Linked DNA regions of Homo sapiens: region 2 is linked to region 1. Evidence: fine-mapped expression QTL. A gene starts in region 1. The other region holds a variant in brackets. All regions are shown on one strand. Distances are from middle to middle.

Region 1 (8,328 bases):
GTAACCTCCGCCTCCCAGATTCAAATGATCCTCCTGCCTCAGCCTCCTGAGTAGCTGGGATTACACACGCATGCCACCACACCCAGCTATTTTTTGTATTTTTTTTTTTTTTTTTTTTGAGACGGAGTCTCGCTCTGTCGCCCAGGCCGGACTGCGGACTGCAGTGGCGCAATCTCGGCTCACTGCAAGCTCTGCTTCCCGGGTTCACGCCATTCTCCTGCCTCAGCCTCCCGAGTAGCTGGGACTACAGGTGCCCGCCACCGCGCCCGGCTAATTTTTTGTATTTTTAGTAGAGACGGGGTTTCACCTTGTTAGCCAGGATGGTCTCAATCTCCTGACCTCATGATCCACCCGCCTCGGCCTCCCAAAGTGCTGGGATTACAGGCGTGAGCCACCACGCCCAGCCTATTTTTTGTATTTTTAATAGACATAGGGTTTCACCATGTTGGCCAGGCTGGTCTTAAGCTCTGACCTCAGGTGATCCACCTACCTCAGCTTCCCAAAGTACTGGGATTACAAGCATGAGCTACCATGTCCGGCCCTGGTCAACATTTTAGACCCTCATCTCTAAAATAATTTTTTAAATTAGCTGGGCATGGTGGTGCACACCTGTAGTCTCAGCTACTTAGGAGGCTGAGGTGGGAGGATCACTTGAGGATAGGAATTGGAGGATGAAGTGAGCTATGATTGTGCCATTGCCCTCTAGTCTGCACGACCTTGTCTCATTTAAAAAAAAAAAAAAGCCAGGTGCAGTGGCTCATGCCTGTAATTCCAGCACTTTGGGAGGCTGAGGTAGGCGGATCATGAGGTCAGGGGTTCGAGACTGGCCTGGCCAACATGGTGAAATCCTGTCTTTACTAAAAATACAAAAATTAGCCGGGCATGGTGGCACACACCTGTAATCCCAGATACTCAGGAGGCTGAGGCAGAAGAATCGCTTGAACCAGGAGGCAGAGGCTGCAGTGAGCCAAGATCGTGCCACTGCACTCCAGCCTGGGCAACAAGAGCATAACTATCTCAAAGCAAACAAACAAAAAAAGTATGTGGCCAAGAGGGGAAGTAATGTATGTCACGGAGGTGTAATTCATGGTTTTTGGAAGGCAATGGCATCCCAGACTGGCTACCTGTTACCTGTGTACAAGGTGTGTACCTCCTGTGCCTCAGTTTCCTTATCTGCAAAATGGGAAGAATCACAGCACCAATTTTGGCACCAAGAGGGAGACGGGCTGCCTGACAATAAGACGGAGAAGAATGTGGAGCAGAGATGGGGCAAATGGTCCCTGACAGCTTTCAGCACCTGGATCTAGCCATACCTGAAGTCGGCCCTGTGAGCTGACTTAAGCTCAGTGAACCAACAAATCCCCTTTTGGGCTGGCTGAGAAGATTGAAAAAGGAAAGGCGAGTAAGTCCTGGCAGGGTGTAAGCCTGGCTTTTTCTGGGAAGGCCTCTGAGTCAACAGTACACACAAGAGGTCCATGTGAGAAAATTAAGCCCCCGGCAGTGAGATCCCATAGAAGGGCCTTACCTGGGAAGGAGACGTTCACGGGCTCGCTGAGGTCTGACAGCTGGGACTGGTTGAGCTCACCTAACACTCCATACTGGCAGTGGAAGGGTCCCCCTGGAGCCTTGCTGCTGCCGCCGCTCAGGTTAAATGTCACCCCGCGCTGGTCCGTGGGGGCCTGCAGGAGCTGGACCACCTGCCCCCCTCGATACAGTGTGAAATTCGCCCCCGGGAAGTTCCCAGGGGCCATGCATGCGATGTGGATGGGGTCCTCTTGGCTGCTTGGGTACGGGGGCACCAGCCGGATGGATGGTGCTGGGATCGCCAAGGAGCCTGCAATGCAGAGGGTAAGGTGGGTGGGTGCGTGGTGAGAGTGGAGGCTGCCCTGGCTATGTGGCCTCGGGCAAGTAGACCACCCTCCCTCAGCCTTGTGTTTTCTGTGAGTCAGGAGGCTAGTGACCCTACCCCACACTGCCTGGCACATGGTGACGGCTCCCTGTAGTTGAATTACTTTTCTTTTTTCTTTTTTTTGTGAGTCGGAGTCTCACTCTGCCACCCAGGATGGAATGTAGTGGTGTGATCTCGGCTCACTACAGCCTCCACCTCCCGGGTTCAAGTGATTCTCCAGCCTCCCAAGTAGCTAGGATTACAGGCATGTGGCACTATGCCTGGCCAATTTTTATATTTTTAGTAGAGATGGGGTTTCACTATATTGGCCAGACTGGTCTCGAACTCCTGGCCTCGTGTGACTCCCCCCACCTCGGCCTCCCAAAGTGCTGGGATTATAGGCGTGAGCTACCATGCCTGGCCATCAGTTTTCAATAATAGCATTGGTTATTACATAGCAACACAACTATACTCTTATTTTTTATTTAATTTATTATTACTTTATTTATTTATTTAGAGACAAAATCTTGCTTTGTCGCCCAGGCTGGAGTACAGTGGCCTCAGCCTCCTGAGTACCTGGGACTATGTGCCACCATGCCTGGCTAATTTTTATATTTTTAGTAGAGACGGGGTTTCACCATGTTGGCCAGGCTGGTGAACCTGGCTAGCTAATTTTGCTTATTTTGTGTAGAGATGGGATCTCACTATGTTGCCCAGATCCTCACCTCAAGTGATCCTCCCACCTTGGCCTCCCACGAGCTGAGTCCTGAGTGGTGAGGAAGGACCCATTTGGAGAGCTGGGGAAGGGCATTCCAACAGAGGGAACAGCATAGGCAAAGGTCCAGGGGATGGAAGGGGAATGGGGGTGTTTAAGGAGGAGCAAACACCTGATGCAGTGGCTCACGCCTGTAATCCCAGCACTTTGGGAGGCCAAGGTGGGAGGACTGCTTGAGCCCAGGAATTTGAGACTAGCCTGGAGAACACAGTGAGACCCTGTCTCTATTTAAAAATAAAAATAAATATTAAAAAAGGAGCAGCAAGGAGGCCATCATGGCAGGAGGGAGGGGGTGAGTGAGGTGGGTGGCAGGAAGGGGAGGGGGTGAGTGAGAGGGAGGGCAGGAGAAGGAAGGGCAGAGGACTTTTATCTCCTTTCCCAGGCTTGGGTGAAGAATACGGATTTTGGAGCACGGCTTCCTGCAGGATGGTCTCCTGGGGATCCATCTCTCTCCTGATTGCCCACAGGCTTCTGAGCAGAGTGTCTGGCCAGGTGAGGTCTATACAAACCCTCCCTCGTCCAGCCTCCAACCCCCACCCACCCCTGCCACACTGATATCCCCCTAGGTAGACCCTCCTGCTGCCCCAGCACTCAAGGAGCCTTCAGAGACGAAGCGGGGCTGAATCATGGGGTGTGGGCACAGCTGACTCCAGAGGGGTGATATTTCTGATATTCATAAACTTGGGGGTGATGAGGAGCCTAAGAAGAAAAAACCAACACTACTGGAGAGTTTCCAAGGCTCAGGGGGAAAACCCATCTGCCAAGGGCTCAGCCTCCTCGATGCCCTGAGAACGGCAGCCCCTGCACTGGTTTCTGCCCCTGGAGCGGCAAGGTGGACAGAGGATGGGGGGAAAGGCGTGGGGGATCTGAGAGGGGGGCTTCAGACTCACCAGCTGCAAAGAGCAAGATGGTCCAGGGCATCTCTCTCTGCGTTTGGCTGGGAAATCCGGCTGAGGCCAGAGGGGCCCAAGGCTCCCCGCCAACTCCTCCTGTGAGGCCAGATCGGGGAAAGGAGAACCAGGGCTGATTCTCGAGCTGAGAGTTTCCTCACTGGCAGGAAGTTGCACACACAGGCTTGGGCACTGAAAGGGACTCTCTCCCCTCCCCACCCCTTCCCCAAACACACATCAGACCCGCGCACCTCTCTGGTTGCGGTTCTGCAGATTAGAGGGGAAAAAAATGGATGAGATGTTTAGGTGGTTTTCACAATTTTTTCCTCTTTTTTTATTTTTATTTTTTGAGACAGAGTCTTGCTCTGTTGCCCAGGCTGGAGTGCAGTGGAGCGATCTCGGCTCACTGCAGCCTCCACCTCCCAGGTTCGAGTGATTCTCCTGCCTCAGCCTCCTGAGTAGCTGGGACTACAGGCAGGAGCCATCATGCACAGCTAATTTTTGTATTTTTAGTAGAGACGGGGTTTTGCTGTGTTGGCCAGGATGGTCTCGATCTCTTGACCTCATTATCTGCCCGCCCCAGCCTCCCAAAGTGCTGGGATTTCAGGCGTGAGCCACCGTGCCCAGCCTTTTGTCTCTCCTTCTAAGAGAACTCCTGGGAATGAGACAGGGTGACAGCAGTGGGATGTTTGGAAACCCATGCCCAAGACACAAACCATAGCCTAACCAGCACCAACATTTAAACAAATATGGGCAGGAGTGGGAGGACATGGTGGTTAGGGCTTGGCCTCTGTGACCTCAGGCATGGCTTACCTCCTTTGAGGCTTCAGTATACTGCTCTGCAGAATGGGGCTAAGAGTAGTAGACATTAGGCCAGACGTGGTGGCTCACGCCTGTAATCCCAGCACTTTGGGAGGCTGAGGTGGGCAGATCACCTGAGGTCAGGAGTTCGAGACCAGGCCAACGTGGTGAAACCCCGTCTCTACTATATACAAAAAATTAGCCGGGCGTGGTGGCACACGCCTGTAATCCCAGCTACTCGGGAGGCTGAGGCAGGAGAATCACTTGAACCCAGGAGATGGAGATTGTGGTGAGTTGAGATCGCGCCATTGCACTCCAGCCTGGGCAACAAGAGTGAAATTCCATCTCAAAAAAAAAAAAAAAAAAAAAGAGCAGTGGACATTAGATTCAAAGAACTTGTAGTAGGAAATGCAACGCCTAGTGGGTAGTGCATGCTCACAAGGTAAAGTTACAGGGAGGAAAAAGACTCAGAAGTTTGATCAGCCACATGAAAGGGAATACCAGTTCCAGATCAATTCTGGATATAGTTTGTGATATAGTTCACAGGATAAACTGCCTCCTGTTTACAGCCCAGAAACTTCCAAGTTTCTCTTACTACTGGGTTTGCATTTATCTTTTTAAACATTTCTGTTCAAGCCAGTCAGGTTTGCTTGGGGGTTTGGACCCAAGAAGGATGTGGCATGTGGTCATCAAACACCAAAATGCGTCATTAGAGTAAACTTTTTTCTTTGGACACAGAAAGTTCAATCCAACCTCAGGGCCTTTGCACACACTATTTCCCTGGCCTGGAACACAATTCTGTCAACCTGGTCAAATCCTGCTTCTCCTTCAGGTCTCAGTTTAAATAGCACTTCTGGGAAAACTTTCCAGGCCCCTCTGGACTTAGAACAATCCCCTAGCTAAATTCTCCCACAGTGCCCTGTAATATTCCTTTATTGCAATTGGCATGCTTGTATCTTCAAGGAATTTGCTCATTTCATCAGAGTTGTCAAATGTATTGGTGTAAAGTTATTTATATCCCCTTACTATCCTTTTAATGTCTGTAGGGTCTGTAGTGATGTTCCTTCTTTCATTCCTGACACATAAATTAGTGAAGTCTCCTTGTCTCTTATCGGTCTTCCTAGGAGCTAATCATTGTTATTGATCTTTTCAAAGTGCCACAGTTTGGATTTGTTGTTTTATTTTCTATTTTATTGCCTTTTGACTTGACTTTATTCTTTTCTTTTTTCTGGTTACCTTATGTTCAATTGGCTCTTCTTTTCCTAGCTCATGTTTTGTTTTTAAATTTAAACTTCACCAGCAGAAATTTGTATTAATAGCTTCTTAAGATGGATGCTTATATAAACTCTTTTTATTAAAAAAAAATTTTTTTTAATTAGCCAGATGTGGTAGTGGGTGCCTGTAGTCCCAGCTACTCGGGAGGCTGAGGCTGGAGAATGGCGTGAACCCGGGAAGGAGAGCTTGCAGTGAGCTGAGATCATGCCACTGCACTCCAGCCTGGGCAACAGAGCGAGACTCTGTCTCAAAAAAAAAACAACAAAAAAACATTTTTTTTTTGAGACAGGGTCTTGCTCTATTGCTCAGGCTACAGTGAAGCAGCATGATCATGACTCACTGCAGCCTCACCCTGCTGGGCTCAAGAGATCATCCCATCTCAGCCTCCTGAGTAGCTGGGACTACAGGTGTCCACCACCACACCTGGCTAATTAAAAAAAAAAAAATTGTAGAGACAGGGTCCTATTATGTTACCCAGCCTGATCTTGAACTCCTGGGCTCAAGCAATCCTCCTGACTCAGCCTCCCAAAGTGCTGGGATTACAGGCAGCTCATTAACTTTAAACCCTCTTTTTTTTTTTTTTTTTTGACGGAGTCTTGCTCTGTCGCCCAGGCTGGAGTGCAATGGCGTGATCTCGGCTCACTGCAAGCTCTGCCTCCCAGGTTCACGCCATTCTCCTGCCTCAGACTCCTGAGTAGCTGGGACTACAGGCACCCACCACCATGCATGGCTAATTTTTTGTATTTTTAGTGGAGATGGGGTTTCACCATGTTAGCCAGGATGGTCTCGATCTCCTGACCTCATGATCCACCTGCCTCGGCCTCCCAAAGTGCTGGGATTACAGGCGTGAGCCACCGCACCCGGCCCACCTTTATCTTCTAATACAAGCATTTAAAGGTACACCTTTCCCTCCAAGAACTGTTTTAACTGCATGCCACACATTTTCATATATTGAGCGTCATTAAGTTAGAAATATTTGCTTATTTCCATTGTGCTTTCTTTTCTATGATCCAGAGAATATGTGTGTTGCTTAATGCCCAAGTACTTGGGCTTTTTGGGGGGCAGCTTACTGTTAATGATTTTTAACTCCTTTGTGGTCATATAATTTCAATACTTTGAAATGTACTGACTTTTTAGAATGGTGCAGGGTATCTCGATCCACATTGTACGTACGCTAGAAATTCAAGTACACGGTGTAGTTGTTTGGTATAATATTCTCTAAATATTAATACAATTTGGTCAAGGTAGTACACAGAATATTCTTGAATTTATTGAATTCATCCTCATGCCTTTTTTTTTTTTTGGAGACAAGGTCTTGCTTTCTTGCCCAGGCTGCTGGAGTGCAGTGGTATAATCATGGCTCACTGCAGTCTCCATCTCTCAGGCTCAAGTGATCCTCCCACCTCAGCCTTCCAAGTAGCTGGGACCACAGGCATGCACGGCACCTGGCTAAATTTTTTTTTTTTTTTTGTAGAGAAAGGGTCTCACTACATTGCCTAGCTGGTCTCAAACTCCTGGGCTCAAGTAATCCTCCCACCTTGGGCTCCCAAAGTGCTGGGATTACAGGCGTAAGCCACCACCACGCCCAGCCTCCTTCATTTTTTTTTTTTTTTTTTGAGATGGAATCTCGCTCTGTCGCCCAGGCTGGAGTGCAGTGGCGCAATCTCGGCTCACTGCAAGCTCCACCTCCTGGGTTCACGCCATTCTCCTGCCTCAGTCTCCCGAGTAGCTGGGACTACAGGCAACCGCCACCACGCCCGGCTAATTTTTTGTATTTTTTAGTAGAGACGGGATTTCACTGTGTTAGCCAGGATGGTCTTGATCACCTGACCTTGTGATCTGCCCGCCTCAGCCTCCCAAAGTGCTGGGATTACAGGCGTGAGCCACTGCACCCGGCCTTTCTTTTTTTTTTTTAAACAGAGACAGGGTCTTGCTATGTTGCTCAGGCTGGTCATGAACTCCTGAGCTCAAGCAATCCTCCCACCTTGGCCTCCCAAAGTGCTGGGGTTACAGGCGTGAGCCACCACGCCTAGCTTTTTAAATTTTTTTTTTTTTTTTTTTGAGACGGAGTCTCACTCTGTTACCCAGGCTGGAGTGAAGTGGTGCGATCTCATCTCACTGCAAACTCCACCTCCTGGGTTCAAGCGATTCTCCTGCCTCAGCTTCCTGAGTAGCGGGGATTACACGTGTGCCACCATGCCTGGCTAATTTTTGTATTTTTAGTAGAGACAGGGTTTCACCATGTTGGTCAGGCTGGTCTTGAACTCCTGACCTCGTAATCTACCCACCTCAGCCTCCCAAAGTGCTGGGATTACAGGCGTGAGCCACCGTGTCCAGCCTTTTTTTTTTTTAGACATGGTCTCACTTTGTCGCCCCGGCTGGAGTGCAGTGGCGCAATCTCGGCTGCACTGCAACCTCCATCTTCCGGGTTTAAGTGATTCTCCTGCCTCAGCCTCCTGAGTAGCTGGGATTACAGGCATGCACCACTACGGCTGGCTAATTTTTGGATTTTTAGTAGAGACAGGATTTCACCATGTTGGCCAATCTGGTTTTGAACTCCTGACCTCGAATGATCCGCCCACCTCCCGAAGTGTTGGAATTATAGGCATGAGCCGCCATGCCCAGCCTTCATGATATCTTAACACAGCTTTCCTCCTCCTCTCGGAGCACAAGGATGGGGTCTGTGTTGTTACCTGCAG
Region 2 (8,328 bases), 130 kb before region 1:
CGCCTCGACCTCCCAAAGTGCTGGGATTACAGGTGTGAACCACCACGCCAGGCCAATTTTTTTATTTTTAGTAGAGACGGGGTTTCACCACATTGGCCAGGCTGGTCTCGAACGTCTGACCTTCAGGTGATCCACCCGCCTTGGCCTCCCGAAGTGCTGGGATTACAGGTGTGAGCCACCGTTCCTGGCCAAAAATTACATTGTATTAGGTGATCTAGCGGAAAAAGTTTTAATTTGAAAGGTAGGGGTTTTTGTTTTGTATACAGAGTCTTACTCTATCACCCAAGCTGGAGTGCAGTGGAGCCATCATAGCCCACTGCAGCCTTGACCTCGGGGGCTCAAGCCGTCCTCCTGCCTCAGCCTCCCGAGTAGCTGGGACCATAGGAGTGCATCACCATGCCTGGCTAATTTTTCTTAATTTTTTTGTAGAGACAGGGGTCTCTCTATGTTGCCCAGGCTGGTCTCAAACACTTGTTGATCCTGGCTCAAGGGATCCTCCAGCCTGGACTTCCCAAAGTGCTGGAATTACAGGTGTGAGACACTGCACCCAGCCATAGGGATATATTCTTAGACAAGAGATGAAAGGCTCAAAATGACCTCATTCCACTTTCATGGCTAACAGCAGGAGAGAGGACCAGGAAACTCAGCAGGGGAGGAACCAGTGGCTGGCACTCCAGCCAATCCTGAAAAGATGGCCCCTGACATAAACAAACCTAAATGTGTTACTGCAAGGAAATTCATCTGGAGGCAAAATCTGACCTGATTCTGCTCCGTGTGGATATTCGCACATTCTGCTACAGAAACAGGATCTGTCTGATTATGAGATGCCGCCCTGGCCTCTGCCATGTGACAACAGTCTGAACCTTGCGTTTATGTTACTAAGATGCTGATTTTGGAGCCTGAAGCCTCTGGTCCATGGGTATGTCTGCAGGGAGGATGCGCCTGCAGCTACCTCCATAGGTGGGAAGCCCAGCAACGTGGGCACGGCCAGGGCAGGGGGAGGCACTGGCTCCTTGGCGCTCCCCTCTGGGCCTTCTGTCCCCACAGTCTTCTCAGGTCCACAGAGTGTTGCAATGAGGTAGGAAAAGGGACAGCAGGACTGCCACATACTTCATAGATCCTGTGATATTCAGGGACCTATAGCTTCTTCCTCACTTGAAGGTCTTTATTCTAAGTCAAATAAACTGAAACTGACAGCAAAATACAATCCAGCACGCCTGTAATCCCAGCACTTTGGGAGGCCAAGGCAGGGGGATGGCCTGAACCCAGAAATTCAAGATCAGCCTGGGCAACATGGCAAAACCTCATCTCTACAAAAAATACAAAAATTAGCCATGCTTGGTGACACATGCCTGTAGCCCCAGCTACTTGGGAGGCTGAGGTGGGAGGGTTACCTGAGTCCAGGAGGTTGAGGCTGCAGTGAACCATGACCGCACCACTGCACTCTAGCCTGGGCAAAAGGGCGAGACGCTGTCTCAGAGGAAAAAGAGAAAAAGATCCAGGTCATTGAGGGCAAACCATCTTTTCCCTCTCTGAAGGTGGACAAGCCAACGAGCATACACTGGGAAGTGACTGAAATTATAGCTCTCCTCATTGTACATTTTTTTTTTTTTGAGACAGAGTCTCACTCTGTCGCCCAGGCTGGAGTGCAGTGACATGATCTCTGCTCACTGCAACCTCCGTCCCCGGGGTTCAAGCGATTCTCATGCCTCAGCCTCCCGAGTAGCTGGGACTACAGGCGTATGCCACCTAATCGTACTTTACACTGAGCATTAGAACTTCTCCCCTCTCCCTTCCATCAAATCATGCGATGCCGTCACAGCCTCCAGGAACGGCTCCAACTCAAAGCAGCGCTAACTTTGTCAACGGAAAAACAGAGTACACTGAAGATGCTGCCCCAAAAAACCATTTTGTGCCCGAATAAGGCAAGTCTGCTTTTTAGAAGCACGGGGTTTCACAGAGGCTTGTTAGAATGGCCTCTCCTCCTGAAAATGCTGCCTCTAGAGTCAGGCTGCAGTGAAACAGGAACGCGGGTGCCACCAGCATCCGCAAATTCATTTCCGGATTGAAAGCTCAGACACGTGCAGAGTGACAGTAAAGGGGATCCCAACAGCCCGGGAGTGATGCAAAGCCATCCCCAGCAGTATCGCCCAGTGCCAAAGCCTGTGATGAGGTTGCTGGTGCCTGCACTTGAACAAGCACTGGCCGACTTGCAGCACAAAGTGGAGAGCCGTGGAGCGACTCCACGTCCTCAGCTCAGTACTGAGGGGAGCAGCGTGTGATTCTGCTTACTCTCACTGACTTGTACATGCCCTGATCGCAGGATCATAGGTGAACAGCTTGAAGAACACTGCGTCAGACATCCCTCCTGACGTTCCAGAAGGCATTCTTGGGCCCCCCCAGTCAATACCACTCTCCCAGGGAAACCACTATTTTGACTATCACTGTGGCTTCCTTTCACCTGTTATTGAACTTCCAATAAAATGACGGGTGTGGTGGGTCACGTCTATAATACATATATTATATAATATACAATATATACTTATAACATATAATATATGTAACATATAAATAATATAATGTTGGGGGCAGTGGGTCATACCTATAATCCCAGCACTTTGGGAGGCCAAGGCAGAAGGATCGCTTGAGTCCAGGAATTCAAGACCAGCCTAGGCAACATAGCAAGACCCTGTCTCTACAAGTTTTTTTTTTTAAATTAGCTTATACTCAGGAGGCTGAGTAGGGAGAACTGTTTGAGCCCAGGAGGTCAAGGCTGCAGTGAGCCATGATCGTGGGCAACAGAGAAAGACCCTGTCTCAAAAAAAAAAAAAAAAGACAATCACACAGGGTCACCATGTCTGGGAGAGTCATCCGTTCTTTTTATGTGAGCATTCTCATTTTCATAGACATTGTACTCTACCAGGTTCTGGCCAGCACAAATCAAGCTGCTATGAGAGTCATTTGGTGAACACATGCATTGGTTCTTCTTGGGTGTCCAAGAATGAAACTGGTGGTTATAAAGGGAGGCATAAACTTAGCTTTGCTAGTTTTCCAAAATAGTTGTATCATCTACACACACGGTCCCACCTCCCACACAGGGACAGCATTCCAGGTGCTCTTCATCAACCCCAACACTTGCTGCTGTCAGTCCTTACAACTTTTAACAATGTTGCCAATGTCCAATCGCATCTTCTTATGGTCTTCATTTGCATGTCCCTCACAACTAATGGCACGGAGCACCTTTCTGTATGCTTACTGGCTATTGAGATATCTATCTATCTATTTATTTATTTATTTAGAGACAGAGTCTTGCTCCATCACCCAAGCTGGAGTGCAGTGGCGTGATCTCGGCTCACTGCAACCTCCGCCTCCTAGGTTCAAGCGATTATCGTGCCTCAGCTTCCCGAGTAGCTGGGATTACAGGCACGCACCACTATACCTGGCTAAAATATATATATATATATAT[T/ATT]TTTTGTATTTTTAGTAGAGACGGGGTTTCGCCATGTTGGCCAGGCTGGTCTTGAACTCCTGATCCACCTGCATCAGCCTCCAGAAGTGCTGGGATTACAGGCACGAGCCACCACATATGTGGCCGGTATCCACTTTTAAAAAGTAGAAAGTATCGGCCGGGCGTGATGGCTCATACCTGTAATCCCAGCACTTTGGGAGGCCGAGGCAAGCAGAGGTCAGGAGTTCGAGACCAGCCTGACCAAAATGGTAAAACCCGTCTCTACTAAAAATACAAAAATTAGCCAGGCGTGGTGGGTGCATGCCTATAATCCCAGCTACTTAGGAGGCTGAGGCAGGAGAATCACTTGAACCCGGTAGGTGGAAGTTGCAGTGAAGCCGAGATTACATCATTGCACTCCAGCCTGGGCAATAAGAGTAAACCTCCATCTCAACAAACAGAAAAAAAGAGAGAGAAGCTCTTAATTCTAATGAAGGCCAGTTCATCAAGTTTGGTCTTTGAGGTTTAACATTTCTGGGGTCCTATTTAAGAAATCCTCGTCTACCGTAAGGTCATGCTGACAGAGGAAGGGAAGGGATATTTGCAAATCCAGCGGGGACTGTGGCTTGCCTTCACCTCCCTGTGATTTACAACTGCTGAGGATGTCTCAGTCACAAAGAAATGGCAAGGAAGGAAGATCTAGCCAGGAGGTAGGGGCCTCAGCCTACTTGATGGTAACAACTGAGACTCCCCGCACTGGGCCCTCACCACCACACAGGGACTACAGTGGTCCTGCTGGCCAGCTGACAGATGACAGGGAAGTGGAAGAGTTCAGGTCACAAGGCCAAGGCCACAGTGGAACTCACTGCCATGCATCCCACACTCTGAACATGGACTGTGAAGCCACGGTGCCACCTGCCTCACGGGTAACCTCCCTGTGGCTCCACCTCCTCCTCCACAGGCTGGAACATCGAACCATCACTCACAGGCAGGAAGTGCCAGCCGCTCAGCTGGTGAAACCAAGGTGCCCCATCTCTCCCCAGGTTTACTGAGCAGCTGCTTAGCACGTGAAAGGTATCGCACTAGGAGCATCACACAGATGAGGTCCTCAGATGCTCCCATCAAAATGTGAAGCAGAGGCTCCTTTCCCTGAACAGAAATGAGAAAACTGAGTCATGGGCTGGGCATGGTGGCCCATGCCTGTAATCCCAGCACTTTGGGAGGCCGAGGCGGGCGGGTCACTTGAGGTGAGAAGTTCAACACCAGCCTGGCCGACTTGGTGAAACCCCGTATCTACTTAAAAAACAAAAAGTAGCTGGGTATGGTGGTGCATGCCTGTAATGCCAGCTACTCGGGAGGCTGGGGCAGGAGAATTGATTGAACCCGAGAGGCAGAGGCTGCAGTGAGCCGAGATCACACCACTGCACTCCAGCCTGGGCAACAGAGCAAGAGTTCATCTCAAAAAAAACAAAAACAAAACAAAAAAAAACTCGAGTCCGTAACGCAGCCTCCCCCCAGCACAAACCGCAGGTAACACTCCTGCCCCGCAATGCTCAGGAACAACAGACTGGCTTCCCCTCTTGGGCGCGCATCAGGTAGAAGCAGCTGGCTGGAGAGCAGCAAACCCCTAGGTGCGATCCAGGACCTGCTGTCAGCCATGACACGCCCACCCTGGCAAGCAATGCACACAGATTTGGCCGGCTGCCAAGAATTTTGTTCTTGTTATTTGTTTATTTATTTGTTTTGGAGACAGAGTCTCGCTCTGTCACCCAGGCTTAGCGCAGTGGTGCGACCTTGGCTCACTGCAACCTCCGCCTCCTAGGTTCAAGCGATTCTCCTGCCTCAGCCTCCCGAGTAGCTGGGACTACAGGCGCACACTGCCGAACCTGGCTAATTTTTTTGTATTTTAGTAGAGACAGGGTTTTTGCCATGTTGCCCAGGCTGGTCTCAAACTCCTGAGCTCAGGCAATCCGCCTGCCTCGGCCTCCCAAAGTGCTAGGATTACAGATGAGAGGCACCACGCCCGGCCCAATTTTTTTTTTTTTTTTGAGACAGGGTCTCGCTCTGTCTCCCAGGCTGGAATGCAGTGGCGCCATCACAGCTCACAGCCTTGAACTTCTGGGCTCAAGTGATCCTCCCATCTCAACTTCCCGAGTAGCTGGGACTACAGGCTCATGCCACTATGCCCAGCTAATTTTTGTATTTCTTTATAGAAATGAGGTCTCGCCGTGTTGCCCAGGCTGGTCTCAAACACCTGGGCTCAAGTGATCCGCCCACCTCAACCTCCGAAAGTGCTAGGACTACAGGCATGAGCCACCGCACCTAGCCCAAGCCACAGTGCCTGACCCACAAACATCTCTTATCCCTCCTTGCTCCCACAGCCATAAGCATGGTGTTGTTCTCAGCCCTCAACCTCCTCCTGGCCAGCTCACCCTCCCTGAAGGGCTGGGGTGAGGCCAGCCCTGTAGAAGCTGGATGGGGTGTGGGGCTGGGTGCACCTTGCTCCGGCGAGATGTCTACACGGGAAGGCCAAACGAGCACGGCCAGGAAAGGTGTCTAAGGACAAGGAACACCTCTCTCTCTACCCCTTCTTACCCCATCGCCAATCATCCCTGCCCTTCTATACAGGAAACGAAGGATTTGGCATTTTCAGCAAAGTCCTGGGGTGGCCAAAGGTCGTCCCTAAGGTGTCTTACACGGTGCCGCTTAGAGTCCTGCAATGGGGCCCTCAATGATAAGTCACTAGCAGGGGAAATTCACGCAGCAATGAAATCCATTGCAGACCAGGAGGCCACACCTACTCAGGTGGAAAAAGCAAAGGATGAGGGGATTCAGGGGCCAAAAGGGCAAGAATAGTTAGTACAGCGTGTGGAAGCCAAATCCAGATGTGTGCGGCCCTTGGATCGGGTGCTGCCGGGGCCTCCACAAGGAGAAAACAGAGCCTGGGAATCCAGGCCAGCAGCCAGAAGGAATGACCGGAAGTGAAACTACTCTGGCACAAGAATCTAAAAGCTAAGATGTAAAACACTCAGTTAAAAGTCCAGGAGGTTAACCCTTTCCCTGGGCCAAAGGGTCTAGAAGTGGTGTGGCCATATTGCCTCAATTTCTTGAGAAGCTCCTCAATTGCCCAGCAATCAGAACCCCCACACAACCCACGCTGCAGAAGTCTTGGCACATCAAAAAAGAATTGAGAGGCTGGGCGTGGTGGCTCACGCCTACAATTCCAGCACTTTGCGAGGCCAAGGTGGGCGGATCACAAGGTCAGGAGTTTGAGACCACCCTGGCCAACATGGTGAAACCCTATCTCTACTAAAATACAAAAATTAGCTGGGCGTGGTGGAGCTGGCCTGTAGTCCCAGCTATTCGGGAAGCTGAGGCAAGAGAATCGCTTGAACCCGGGAGGTGGAGGTTGCAGTGAGCCAAGATCGCGCCACTGCACTCCAGCCTGGCAACAGAGAAACACTCAAAAAAAAAAAAAAAAAAGTAAGGTTGGATATGGTGTTAATGCCTATAATCCCAGCACTTTGGAGGCCAAGGAAGGCAGATCACCTGAGGCCAAGAGTTCGGGACCAGCCTGGCCAACATAGCAGAATCCCATCTCTAGTAAAAATACAAAAGTCAGCCAGGGGTAATGGTGCATGCCTGTAGTCCCAGCTACTCAGGAGGCTGAGGCACGATAATCACTTGAACCAGGAAACGGAGGTTGCAGTGAGCCAAGATCACGCCACTGCACTCCATCCTGAGCGACAGAGACCCTGTCTCAAAAAAAAAAAAAAAAAAAAAAGAATAACTATATATGCATATGGCTGGGCATGGTGTCTCACAGCTGTAATCCCAGCACTGTCGGAAGCTGAGGCGAGCGGATCACCTGAGATCGAGACCAGCCTGGCAAACGTGGTGAAACCCCATCTCTACAAAAACACAAAAGTTAGCTAGGCGTGGTGGTGGGCACCTGTAATCACAGCTACTTGGGAGGCAGAGGCAGGAGAATCACTTGAACCCAGCAGCCAGAGGTTGCGGTGAGCCAAGATCGCACCACAGCTCTCTAGCCCAGGCAATAGAGCAAGACTCTGTCTCAAAAAAAAAAAAAAAAAAAAAAAAAAAAAAAAAAATATATATATATATATATATATATGCATGTTAATCCATGCATAGAAATTACCCCAAAGAAAACATGCACAAACCGCTGTCAGCACAGCCAGTAGCTCTCTCTGATGGCATGTGATGAGGAACTTACCCTTTCCATATCACAGATGTCTGGCGCTTTTTATTTATTTTTTACAATAGCCATCTATTACTTTTTATATTCAGATTTTTAAAGAAAAACTTCCAAGAAAAAAAAAAAAAGCCTAAATCAGAATACCCATGAAATAAATACCCACAAGAAATGCCCAGGAAGTGTCTTTGTGGAAATAAAAGAGAAAGATCAAAGGATGTGAGAACTACCATGTTCTCATTATTTTCAACTTCATCAAAATTATCATCTAAAATAGAAACATCTGTTGACGTTCAAATGTGGAAGGAGACTGCTTGAGGAAGAGAAGAGGTCTGGTCTCTTCTTTCACGCCACCCCTAGCTTTTGTCTTAAAGCACTGCGGTGACCAGCCCCAGGCAGGGCAGGTTGCTAACCAGCAATCGGATCCCTTGGAAATCTGTTTGTTGGAATTATGGTGGTTGTTTTCACCTTGCATGAGAAACTAGCATTATATTTAAGTTTGGTCCCAGGATATCTGCTATTGTGTTTTTTGGGGCTTGGGGAAATTTGTTCACGGACACATTTCAGCAGCAGACCAACGTGGGAGTCAGGTTATGGCAGAGGCTTGGGCGGAACAACAGCAATGGGCAGGATGGCTTCCGCAGAGCCAGCCCCGTTTACTATGCGT

What was found.
Region 2: its variant is fine-mapped to the expression of C19orf38 in whole blood (INTERVAL, PIP 0.95).

The regions. Positions count from the first base shown.
Region 1 is chr19:10,843,765-10,852,092 of GRCh38, reverse strand. It overlaps C19orf38 (chromosome 19 open reading frame 38), which reads right to left and starts at 3,678. Exons shown (of 7, transcript NM_001136482.3): 1 at 3,554-3,678; 2 at 1,526-1,834. The coding sequence starts at 3,584.
Region 2 is chr19:10,973,919-10,982,246 of GRCh38, reverse strand. All of the region lies in intron 1 of SMARCA4 (SWI/SNF related BAF chromatin remodeling complex subunit ATPase 4), which reads right to left. Among named protein-coding and RNA genes, the nearest start is that of SMARCA4, 17 kb to the right of the region's middle. RefSeq lists an enhancer at 4,409-5,101. The variant T/ATT (reference allele first, on the strand shown) is at 3,467.